Regions from separate parts of the Homo sapiens genome. Here region 2 is linked to region 1. Evidence: fine-mapped QTL for protein levels in blood plasma. A gene starts in region 1. The other region holds a variant in brackets. All regions are shown on one strand. Distances are from middle to middle.

Evidence for each region. A credible set is the group of variants that fine-mapping cannot tell apart. PIP is the chance, under the fine-mapping model, that this variant and not a neighbour inherited with it causes the effect. Protein levels are from antibody-based Olink assays in UK Biobank. Linkage for the fine-mapping came from a reference panel and not from the study's own genotypes, which makes the PIPs less certain.
Region 2: its variant is the best candidate, but not a certain one, in a credible set for the plasma level of the RIDA protein (UK Biobank, PIP 0.71).

What each region holds. Positions count from the first base shown.
Region 1 is chr8:98,114,764-98,120,142 of GRCh38, reverse strand. RIDA (reactive intermediate imine deaminase A) reads left to right here and starts at 2,972. Exons shown (of 6, transcript NM_005836.3): 1 at 2,972-3,111. The coding sequence starts at 3,047. POP1 (POP1 ribonuclease P/MRP subunit) reads right to left here and starts at 2,850. Exons shown (of 16, transcript NM_001145860.2): 1 at 2,753-2,850. RefSeq lists enhancers at 2,578-2,747, 2,818-2,867.
Region 2 is chr8:98,103,449-98,108,827 of GRCh38, reverse strand. It overlaps RIDA (reactive intermediate imine deaminase A), which reads left to right. Exons shown (of 6, transcript NM_005836.3): 2 at 77-182; 3 at 2,502-2,556; 4 at 2,822-2,890; 5 at 4,284-4,339. Among named protein-coding and RNA genes, the nearest start is that of RIDA, 11 kb to the left of the region's middle. The variant T/G (reference allele first, on the strand shown) is at 2,434.

The DNA of each region.
Region 1 (5,379 bases):
TAGTTAACCTACTGTTACCTGCTTGAATCAGAACTCACCAGCAAGGCTAGACAAGAACACCATAGAAACTCTAGCTCCCCTCAGTATTAGAATGGTCCAAGAAAAGGTTGGTGCTGGAGGATTAGGATAACCTTGGGAACATCCCTGAGCTTTGGGTCCAGACTAAAATATGAGGAAATCAAACTGGCAGTGGTCCTCTAACAGCAGAAGGGAATGAATATAGGATGCATCTTTATGAAGTCTGAGGATTTAATTTAAAAGTTTCCAGAGGCCTGGTGTGGTGGTTCACATCTATAATCCCAGCACTTTGGGAGGCCAAGGCGGGAGGATTGCTTGAGCTCAGGAGAAACCAACCTGAGCAACATAGTGAGAACTCATCCCTACAAAGAAATCAAAAAATAAGCTAGGCATAGTTATGAGCTTGTGGTCCCACCTACTCGGGAGGCTGAAGTGGGAAGATCGCTTGAGACAGGGAGGTCAAGGCTGCAGTGAGTGAGCCTTGATCACATTACTGCACTCCAGCCTGGGTGACAGAGCAAGACCCTGTCTCAAAAAAAAAAGTTTCCAGAAGGAATCTTAACTCTTACCTTCACCTTCAAGTCAGTTTTGTCAAACTTTAATAAGCACTAAATATGTGCTGCCTTTATAAAAATATTTTCGCCAAATCTTCAAATAAAATGGATACGTTATGTTTTCTGATACAGCTTAGTATCCTCTGGCCAGACACAACCTTTGGTGTTAGTTAGTTCCCAGTTTGAGAACCTGGGAACTAACTAGATGATGTCTATTTTCTTCCAGATCTAAAAAGTTGGTGATTCAGACTTGATATAAAATCTGTCTTAAGAATAAAGGTACCTTGTTTCACAAGAAATATTTTACACAAGTTGAATCATTTGTAATGCTCCAAAATAGCTTCTTATTTAAAAACTTAAATGGTGAATTATTTTGTAAATAAAAATATGTCTTAATTATCTAGTTTAATCAGATTTAATAAACTTTTGGGCACCTACTATGTGCCCAATAGTTTCAGGCTGTGTATAATTCCAAAGTAGAATAAGAATTTTGTCATCTTAGGCAGCATTGAGAACTTGATGTGGCAGGCACTATTCTACATGACTTATTCATTTAATTCTCACAACTCTGTGGTCACTAGTATTATTCTCATCTTATAAATGAAGAAATCGAAGCACAGAGATTTTATATACCAGTCCAAGGCTACTAAGCTTGTGATTGTGCTGAGATTCAAACCAGGCAGTCTGACTCTATCCACTATTCTTTTTTTTTTTTCCACCCCTTCCCTCTCCAATCCACTATTCTTGAAACACATAACAATTAGAAAATAGGATCTCATATAATAAAATACTAAATTATGCGGTACAGCACAATAGGAAACAGGACAAGGGAAAGAAAAAAAATGAGGCCGGGCATAATGGTTACACCTGTAATCCCTGCACTTTGGGAGGCTGAGGTGGGAGAATTGCTTGAGCCCAAGAGTTGGAGACCAGCCTGGCCAATATGAAGAAGCCCCGTCTCCACAGAAAATACAAAAATTAGCCGGGCGTGCTGGTGTGCACTTGTAATCCCAACTACTTGAGATGCTCAGGCTGGAGGATTGCTTCAGCCCAGGAGGTCAAGGTTTCAGTGAGCCAAGATCATGCCACTGTACTCCAGCCAGGGTGACAGAGTGAGATCCTGTCTTGAAAGAAAGAAAACAAAGAAAAAGAAAAGGAAAGGAAGGAAAGAAGAAAAAGAAAAAAATGTGAATTGGTAGGAAAAGTCAAAGAGAAAATAGAATTTCAGTTAGCTGGAATTTGCACAGATAAGGAAGAAAGAGTATTCAGGAATCCACAGTGTGAATACAGGAGGACTCTAGTGGGAAAAGGGAGTAGATGACAATGAAACTTGAATAGGCAAGGGGAGGCCAGACTGAAAGGTCTTTTATTCCAGGCCCCAAACCAATGAAAAAGATCAGAAGGTTCCTGAGCCGGAAGTAGGAAGGCCAAAACCTTAGCAGTATGTAGGACAAAATGAGAGGGAATAAAGCAGATTTTCTTGTATTATCTTTAGGAAGCAGGGAAGGCAGAGATTTTATTATTATTTTTTTTAACTGTTGCATTCCTCCTAGCATCTAGCAGAGTGCCTTACACAAAGTAGGGACTCATATATCTATGAGTGCCCGCATAAATGAAGAAACGAAGCGTACTTACAATGCAAATATTAACAGGATAAGAAATATTTAGCCAAGTACCACCCCTTCTGACACAGCAGAATACTTACAAGGGATCTGGGCCATTCCAGATCACCATCTTTCTTTCTGAAATGATATCCCAATCACTAGGGCTCTGTTCAGACAGTGACCTTGTAAAGCCCGAGGAGCACCCTAGAGAAGGGAACACAGGAGGAGCAGGAAAGGGAACACGGGAGGACCAACGCCCAGATCTCAGCGTGGTCGCCAGAATGACCCATATTAGTCATTTGGGGTTGCAGAAGAGGGGATGCAAGCCCATTCCCAGGACGGCCTCCACCCGGCGGGGCAATGAAGGGAAATGACTGACGTAGGGGGCTCCAGCGCAGGGGCCGAAGGAGATGCGACACCAGGGAGAGGGGCCCCGGGCACAGGCAGCAAGGAAAGAGGTCAGCGGAGTCTGAGAGAGAAACGATGAAGAGGGGAGACGGGCGCCGGGAGGGGGGCCGCCGCATACAGTTCCCCCGACACTCGCATCCTGGAAGGCACCAGCCCCTCACGACCAACCTGCCAGACGCTGTGAGGAATCCCCGGGTCAGAATGACAAGCCTCCGCGACAGTACCCACCGAGCCAAAGCTCCTGGAGAGCGCGCTGGAGAGCGCATGCGCCAGACCGGGCGCTTCCTCCACGTGGCCTGGAGCGTCGCCGAAACTACAGTTCCCAGAATGCCGCACGAGCCCGCCCCCAGCGGGAGCTGTGGGGCAGAGGCGCTGCTGTGGTTGGTCAGTCCAGTAAGAAGCCAGCAGGGCTGGTGCTGGGGCTTCTTCTCCTGAAGGGGCTGCAAGAGGGAAGGCTTAGCCATGTCGTCCTTGATCAGAAGGGTGATCAGCACCGCGAAAGCCCCAGGGGCCATTGGACCCTACAGGTAACGTGGCTGGTGGAAGCTGTGTCGGACCCAGGGCGTGCGGGTTCGGGGATTCGGGGTTGGGGCCACTCCGGGCCGGAGCCCCAGCTAACACGCAAGGAAATTGAGCCTGGAAAGTAAGCAACGCGCCCGAAGACCCACAGAGAGTTGGGAGCCACGATGGGACCAGGAACCTGCACTCCATGGGACTTTGCTCGTTCTGGGGCTGCCTCGCTGCGGAGCACAGCCTGCCAGAAAGCTCTCCCCAGTTAGAAGCCTTCAGACCCTGTGTTTTGTTTTGGGGGAGGGGGTCGTTTTTGTTTTCTTGGTAACAGCTTTATTGAGATATAATTCACGTACCGTAAGATTCACCCCCTTTAACATGTACAATTCAGTGGTTTTGACCATACTCACAGAGTTGTGCAGCCATCACCACTTTCTTCAGAACATTTTCATCACCCCAAAAATAAATCCCATCCCCATTAGCATTCACTCCCCATTCTCCTCTCCCCCGGCCCCTGACAATCTACTTGCATCTTCATGGATTTGCTTGTTGTGGACATTTCCTATAAATTGAATCATAAAACATGCAGTCCTTTATGACCAACTTCTTTCATTAGCTTCATACTTGGTCTGCCTCTCTCCCAACTGAAAAGAGCCCCATCAACAGCTCCCTCCTTTAAACCTACTGCTGTGAGAAAAGGCACTGAGATGTGGCAGAACAGGAATTATTATAGAAAACTTGGAAATAAATAAAATGCAGTAGAAGTGAGAGGGCAAGTGGGGTAGGGAGTAAAGGAGAAAAAAGACAAATTGATTTTAACTTGGGGTGGAAGAGGAAAAAGAAGATTTAGGAAGGTTCCTTGTGAGAGGTAGTCCTTTGGTTTTGAAGGTTGGTTTTGTCATTTATAGTAGTGTTGTAAAGTTTGATTTTTAAATTAATTTATTAAGGATTTCAACAGGAAGTCATTGAGTGAAGGGCATGGAGGTAGAAGTCAGGTAGAGGGAATGGCTTGAGTGAGGGCATGGAGGTAGAAGAATGCATGGTATAAAGATTTTGGGGAGAAAGTTTTCATAATTCAAGTGCTACTTCTGTCTTTTTTGTTTGTTTGTTTGCCAAATCTGTATATCACTTATAATTTACTTAACCTATTTCTTTGAGATGGCTCACTTCATTTTATTTAACAAGTTAATTGAAAAAGGAAACTTTACAACAGTACACTAAATAGAAAACAATTCAATAGAAAGTAATAGTAAAAAATAAACTCAATTAAAAAAAGGTATTATTAAATTTTAGCTAGATATTGCAGTTGGCTCAAAACCTGAGGCCTGCTCTCTCTTTGTTAAGAGTGATGTTTCTTTAGCCGGGTACTGTGGTTCACGCCTGTAATCCCAGCACTGTGGGAGGCCGAGGTAAGAGGATTGCTTGAGGTCAGGAGTTCAAGACCAGCCTGGGCAACATAGTGAGACCCCCATCTCTATTTAAAAAAAAAAAAAAGTTTAATTAAAAACTTTCAAGTGATGTTTTAATTTGTTTTCTAAAGATGATTTTTTTTCTCCTTAATGTAATCAAACGGGGTAGAGTCATCATTGCTAACATTTACTGATGCTTACTCAGCAGCATTGGGCACTATCCCTTTTTTTTTTTTTTTTTTTTTTTTTTTGGAGGCAGAGTCTCACTCTGTTGCCCAGGCTAGAGTGCAGTGGTGCAATCTCAGCTCACTGCAACCTCCACCCCACAGATTCAAGTGATTCTCATGTCTCAGCCTCCCAAGTAGCTGGGATTACAGGCAGGTGCCACCACACCCGGCTAATTTTTGTATTTTTAGTAGAGACAGGGTTTCACTGTGTTGGTCAGGCTGGTATTGAACTCCTGACCTAAAGCGATCCACCTACCTCGGCTTCCCAAAGTACTCGGATTACAGGTGTCAGCCACCATGCCTGGCCAGCACCAGGCACTGTTCTAAGTTATTTATGTGCATGGTTATATTATAGTCCCTATTTTTCAGATGAAGAAACTGATGTGTGCAAAATTAAATAATTTGCCAAAAGTTACACCACTAAAAAGTGATGTAACAAAATTTGAATTTAGGAAATGGGTACTAGAGCCTAGTCTTAATCATTTACTTTGTTGTCCCTGGTGTAGATTGAAAAAAAAAATTGGAAAAGGAATCATTTTCTTACTATGTAAGACTGTGTATAAGTCTTACTGTGTATGACTGACTCCTTTGAGAAATACTGATTAAGAGTTGGACTTTGGATTTGAATTTTTGTTTTGCCTCTTTTTAA
Region 2 (5,379 bases), 11 kb after region 1:
CTATCAAAAAAGTCTTCTAGCATTGAATTTTATGTTTTATACTTACATAAATACACTAGCTTTCTGTTTATTGCAGTCAAGCTGTATTAGTCGACAGGACCATTTACATTTCAGGACAGATAGGCATGGACCCTTCAAGTGGACAGCTTGTGTCAGGAGGGGTAGCAGAAGAAGCTAAACAAGTAAGTTATTTTCCACATTTAAGGTTCCCTTTTCTACTACCTTTTTAATGTTGAAGAGCATTAAGAATCCACTTGCCTGATTTGTTTTATAGAGATTAACAGATAAATGTTTTTTAAACTACTTACTGCTTGATTTAACATAGTTTTTGATCTAAGAGTTGGAAATTTGATGGATCATGAATCATCTAACAACCAAAAGAGAGATTCCACCTCCTTAACACTAAGGTGACCTTAAACCTGAATTATTGACGTCAGATGACATGTTGCCACTTCCACATGGATTGGGAAATTTTCTTCTCAGGGCCACTGACCTGCCCCTCTTCAAAAAAAAAAAAAAATTACCACCACAGAAGTAAAAAGTCAACATTTTTAAAAATAAGAATGGGGAATATAATTTTAATCCAATAAATATAATTAAACCATAATTTAGGCCAGGCACGATGTGGCTCACACCTGTAATCCTAGCACTTTGGGAGGCCGAGGCTGGCAGATCACTTGAGGTCAGGAGTTCAAGACTAGCCTAGACAACATGGTGAAACCCCATCTCTACTAAAAATACAAAAATTAGTTGGGGGAGGCCAGGCACAATGGCTCACACCTGTAATCCCAGCACTTTGGGAGGCCGAGGCGGGCAGATCACCTGAGGTCAGGAGTTCAAGACCAGCCTGGCCAACATGGTGAAACCCCGTCTCTACTGAAAATACAAAAATTAGCCAGGTGTGGTGGCATGTGCCTGTAGTCCCAGCTACTCGGGAGGCTAAGGCATGAGAATCGTTTGAACCCGGAAGGCGGAGGTTGCAGTGAGCTGAGATTGTGCCACTCCACTCTAGCCTGGGCAACAGAGCAAGAACCCTGTCTCAAAAAAAAAATAGAAAAAAAAAGTAACCCAGTCAGGTGGCACATGCCTGTAGTCCCAGTTACTCAGGAGGCTGATGCAGAAGAATCGCTTAAACCTGGGAGGTGGAAGTTGCAGGAAGCCAAGATCGTGCCACTGCACTCCTGCCTGGGACACAGAGCAAGACACTGTCTCAAAAAATAAAATAAAATAAAACAATAAACTATAATTTACTGCATTTACTGAGTCATATAATGCTGAAAGTTTGTTTTGTTTTGTTTTGTTTCTTGAGACAGCCTTGCTCTGTCGCCCAGGCTGGAGTGCAGTGTCGTGATCTCAGCTCACTGCAACCTCTGTCTTCCAGGTTCAAGCAATTCTCTTGCCTCAGCCTCCCAAGTAACTGGGACTACAGGCACACGCCACCACACCTGGCTTATTTTTTGTATTTTTAGTAGAGACGGGGTTTTACCGTGCTAGCCAGGATGGTCTCGATCTCCTGACCTCATGATCCACCCACCTCAGCCTCCCAAAGTGCTGAGATTACAGGCATGAGCCTCCACACCCGGCCTAGCTGAAAGATTTTTAAAAACCTAAATATCCACTCATAAAGAACTGGTTGAATAAATTATGCTAGATCAATACAACTAAAGTAATGTGGAAAGATCTCCGAGGTAAATTGTTCCATGGTAATAAAACCAAGATGCAGAACAACATGCACAGTATGCTACCATGTGTGCTTGTGTGTTTAAAAATATGTAACATAAGCATTGACTGTACCTAGAAGGATATACAATAAATTAGGAACAGTGGTTACCTCTGAGGAGGGAAACTTGGGAGAGGGAGAGAGGGGTGAGAGATATCTTTACACGGTATATGCTTTTTTAATAGCTTTTGAGTTTTTTTGTTGTTGTTGTTGCCATATCCATGTATTACCTATTTAGAAGATTATTTTAAAAGACACAAGAATATAATGAAATATTGCATTGTGACCAGCAAAGTGGGAAGAGTGAATCCAAAAAAAGATAAATGTTTTTCCAGAAGCCAGTGTCTCCAACTGTTATATAATTTACTAATATTGTTTTTTTGAGAAAAAGGAAAAAGAACCCTTTGAAGTCAAATATTGCTTTAAAAGAAAATATGTTTTAATGCTTACTAGCTCATCCTTATCCTTGACGTGATATCGAATGAAGAACACCAGAAATTATTTCTGTGGACATTGGCTGAACAATTAACACATTTTAGCACTGAAGAAGGAACTTCAACCTAGTCTTTTTACGCACAAAAGGAGACAACATTTTCACCATATATCAGAAAGACTCATTCTATTAAAGGAAAGCCAAGAAACACACTTGTAAGCGAGTAGGGAGGATTTTTCTGCAACATAGGCTATTTAAGGAGGTATTAGTAAAAGATGAT[T/G]AATTGAATTTAATTAAAGCTTTAAATCTAACATCAGTGACTTAGGCCTTTCTTGGCTTGGTTCACAGGCTCTTAAAAACATGGGTGAAATTCTGAAAGCTGCAGGCTGTGACTTCACTAACGGTGAGCAATTTGATATTATTTCACATTTCTTTTTGATATTTCTTTGGTCTTTTTGAAAAATATATGGCATCCAGTAAGATGCCGTGCCATATCTTTGTTGCTATTTAAAAGTTGTTTTAAATAGCAACTGTTCTACTTCACTTCTTTGGTCCCATTTCAGTCCCATTTTAATCAAGACAGTCTCAGATTCATACACTCTTTTTCTAAGTAATGTTTTGGGTCAGACCAAATAACTAAACCTAATGACAATGTTTATATCTTCTAGTGGTGAAAACAACTGTTCTTCTGGCTGACATAAATGACTTCAATACTGTCAATGAAATCTACAAACAGTGTAAGTAATTTGGCTTTATTCCTATTTTCCATTTTTAAAAAGAAAGAAATCTGGTCACATTAATGAATGTGCATTATGAATTAAGAGTGGTAGGAGATGCTAAAGAAATGGTCATAGATCTTAAAAGAATTAATAATCTGATTGGAAATATGTTGTATACCCCCCATGAAAAAGTTCTAAGACATTTCTATTGCATTCCCTAAAACAATATACTGAAATCCTACATATCCATTTTTCAAAAGCTTAATTTCATTAAATCCTTCTCAGGCTTTTTAAACTCTCCTAACAAGTTTTTTATGCATAGATTTTATTTACTGTGGCTGTATGGTGCAGCCACCATCTTTATCCTGGCTCTCTCAGACTCATTAGTTAGTTACTTAATATTTCTATGCCTTGGTTTTCTCATATGCAAAATGGAGATAATATACTCCTAACTTATAGGGTTGTTGGAATGATTAAATGAGTCAGTACAACATGTAAAGCACTTAGATGCTGGTGTGTTATAAGCACTGAGTAAATGTTAGCTATTATTAACATTGATGTTATAGTAGGGAAAATTGGTGTCCCCAACACCTAATGGGATGAGGCAAAGGTATAACTTGGAAAAAGCATCGTTACTTATTCTCTCCTGAAGAAATTATTAGAAAAGACCAAAGTTGGCAGAGGAAGTACTTGCCAAAATTTCTGGAGATGGGCACTTGTTCCCTATTTAGATAAATAGTTTATAAATATCACTTTAAAAACAAAACTCCATTCACATCAAACAAGATCAAAATGTTAGGGTATGTATTTCTTTTTTTTTTTTTTTTTTTTTTTTGCCAGAAAGCTAAGAGATTTTAAAAAGTATTAACTATCATAGGAATCATATGGCAAAATATTTTATCAAACAAATCTGATAGTGAGCCTCTTTTTTAAAATGTTGCTTAAGGCCAGGAGCAGTGGCTCACACCTATAATCCCAGCACTTTGAGAGGCTGAGGTGGGTGGATCACTTGACATTAGGAGTTTGAGACCAGTCTGGCCAACATGGTGAAGCCCCGACTCTACTAAAAATACAAAAATGAGCCAGGCATGGTGGTGCACACCTGTAATCCCAGCTACTCGGGAGGCTGAGGCAGGAGAATCTCTTGAACATGGGAGACAGAGGTTGCAGTAAGCTGAGATCGCATCACTTCACTCCAGCCTTGGGCGATAGAGCAAGACTCTGTTTCAAAAAAATAAAAATAAATGTTGCTTATATCTAAGAACTGACTAGTATATGAAATATTTGCCAGATTATTAATTGTAGATATTGAATAACAATAGAATATCTGAAAACTAAAATAAAAATTTTCACTTGATCTTTATTTTTTCAACTCTTCTCTATTAAAAAAATGAAATTCTTTTAAATTCAGATTTCAAGAGTAATTTTCCTGCTAGAGCTGCTTACCAAGTTGCTGCTTTACCCAAAGTAAGTACACTTTAAATGACTAATGTACACAGTTTTCAGTTTCTACATTGTTTTCCTTCTATAAGTAAACTAAGCACTGTGAAAGGAAACTTAAAAGAAGTAGCCTGGGCAGGGTGGCTTACCCCTGTAATCCCAGTGCTTTGAGAGGCCAACACAGGAGGATCGCTTGAGGCCAGGAGTTCTAGACCAGCCTGGGCAACATAGCAAGACAGCCATCCCTACAAAAACAATTTAAAATTAGCCATGCATGGTGGTGGTGCACACCTATAGTCCCAGCTACTTGGTAGGCTGAGGTGGGAGGAACACTTGAACCCAGGAGTTCAAGGCTGCAGTGAGCTATAATCGAACCACTGTGCTGCAGCCTGGGTAACAGTGTGACCTTGTCTCTTAAAAAAAAAAAAAAAAAGAAAAGAAATAGACCCTGCTTCCCCAGGGACTTAAAGTCTGAAAGGAAATATCCCATATTACATGCATGAAAAAAAAATTAAGAAACCTTTTAAGACAGCACATGAACATAGAATCAGAATCAAAATACTTAAATTGTGAGAAAAGGCCAGGCGCGGTGGCTCACGCCTGTAATCCCAGCGCTTTCGGAGGCCGAGGCGGGCGGATCACAAGGTCAGAAGATCGAGACCATCCTGGCTCACATGGTGAAACCCGTCTCTACTAAAAATACAAAAAAAAATTAGCCGGGTGTGGTGGCGGACGCCTGTAGTCCCAGCTACTCGGGAGGCTGAGGCAGGAGAATGGCATGAACCCAGGAGGCAGAGCTTGCAGTGAGCCGAAATCGCGCCACTGCACTCCAGCCTGGGCGACAGAGCGAGACTCCATCACAAAAAAAAAAAAATTGTGAGAAAAAATAAAATAGCAGCTGTACTGTTGTAGTGTTACTTAGGGGACTATAAATTTGAGCCAGGTTTGTTTGTGAGTTCTGCAGTAAAAATTTCACCTGGATATTGTACAATTAAAAATCTAAGCCTTCCACTAGAAAAATAATCTCTAAACCAGGGGCACACATATTTCTCACCATTTTGATTTTG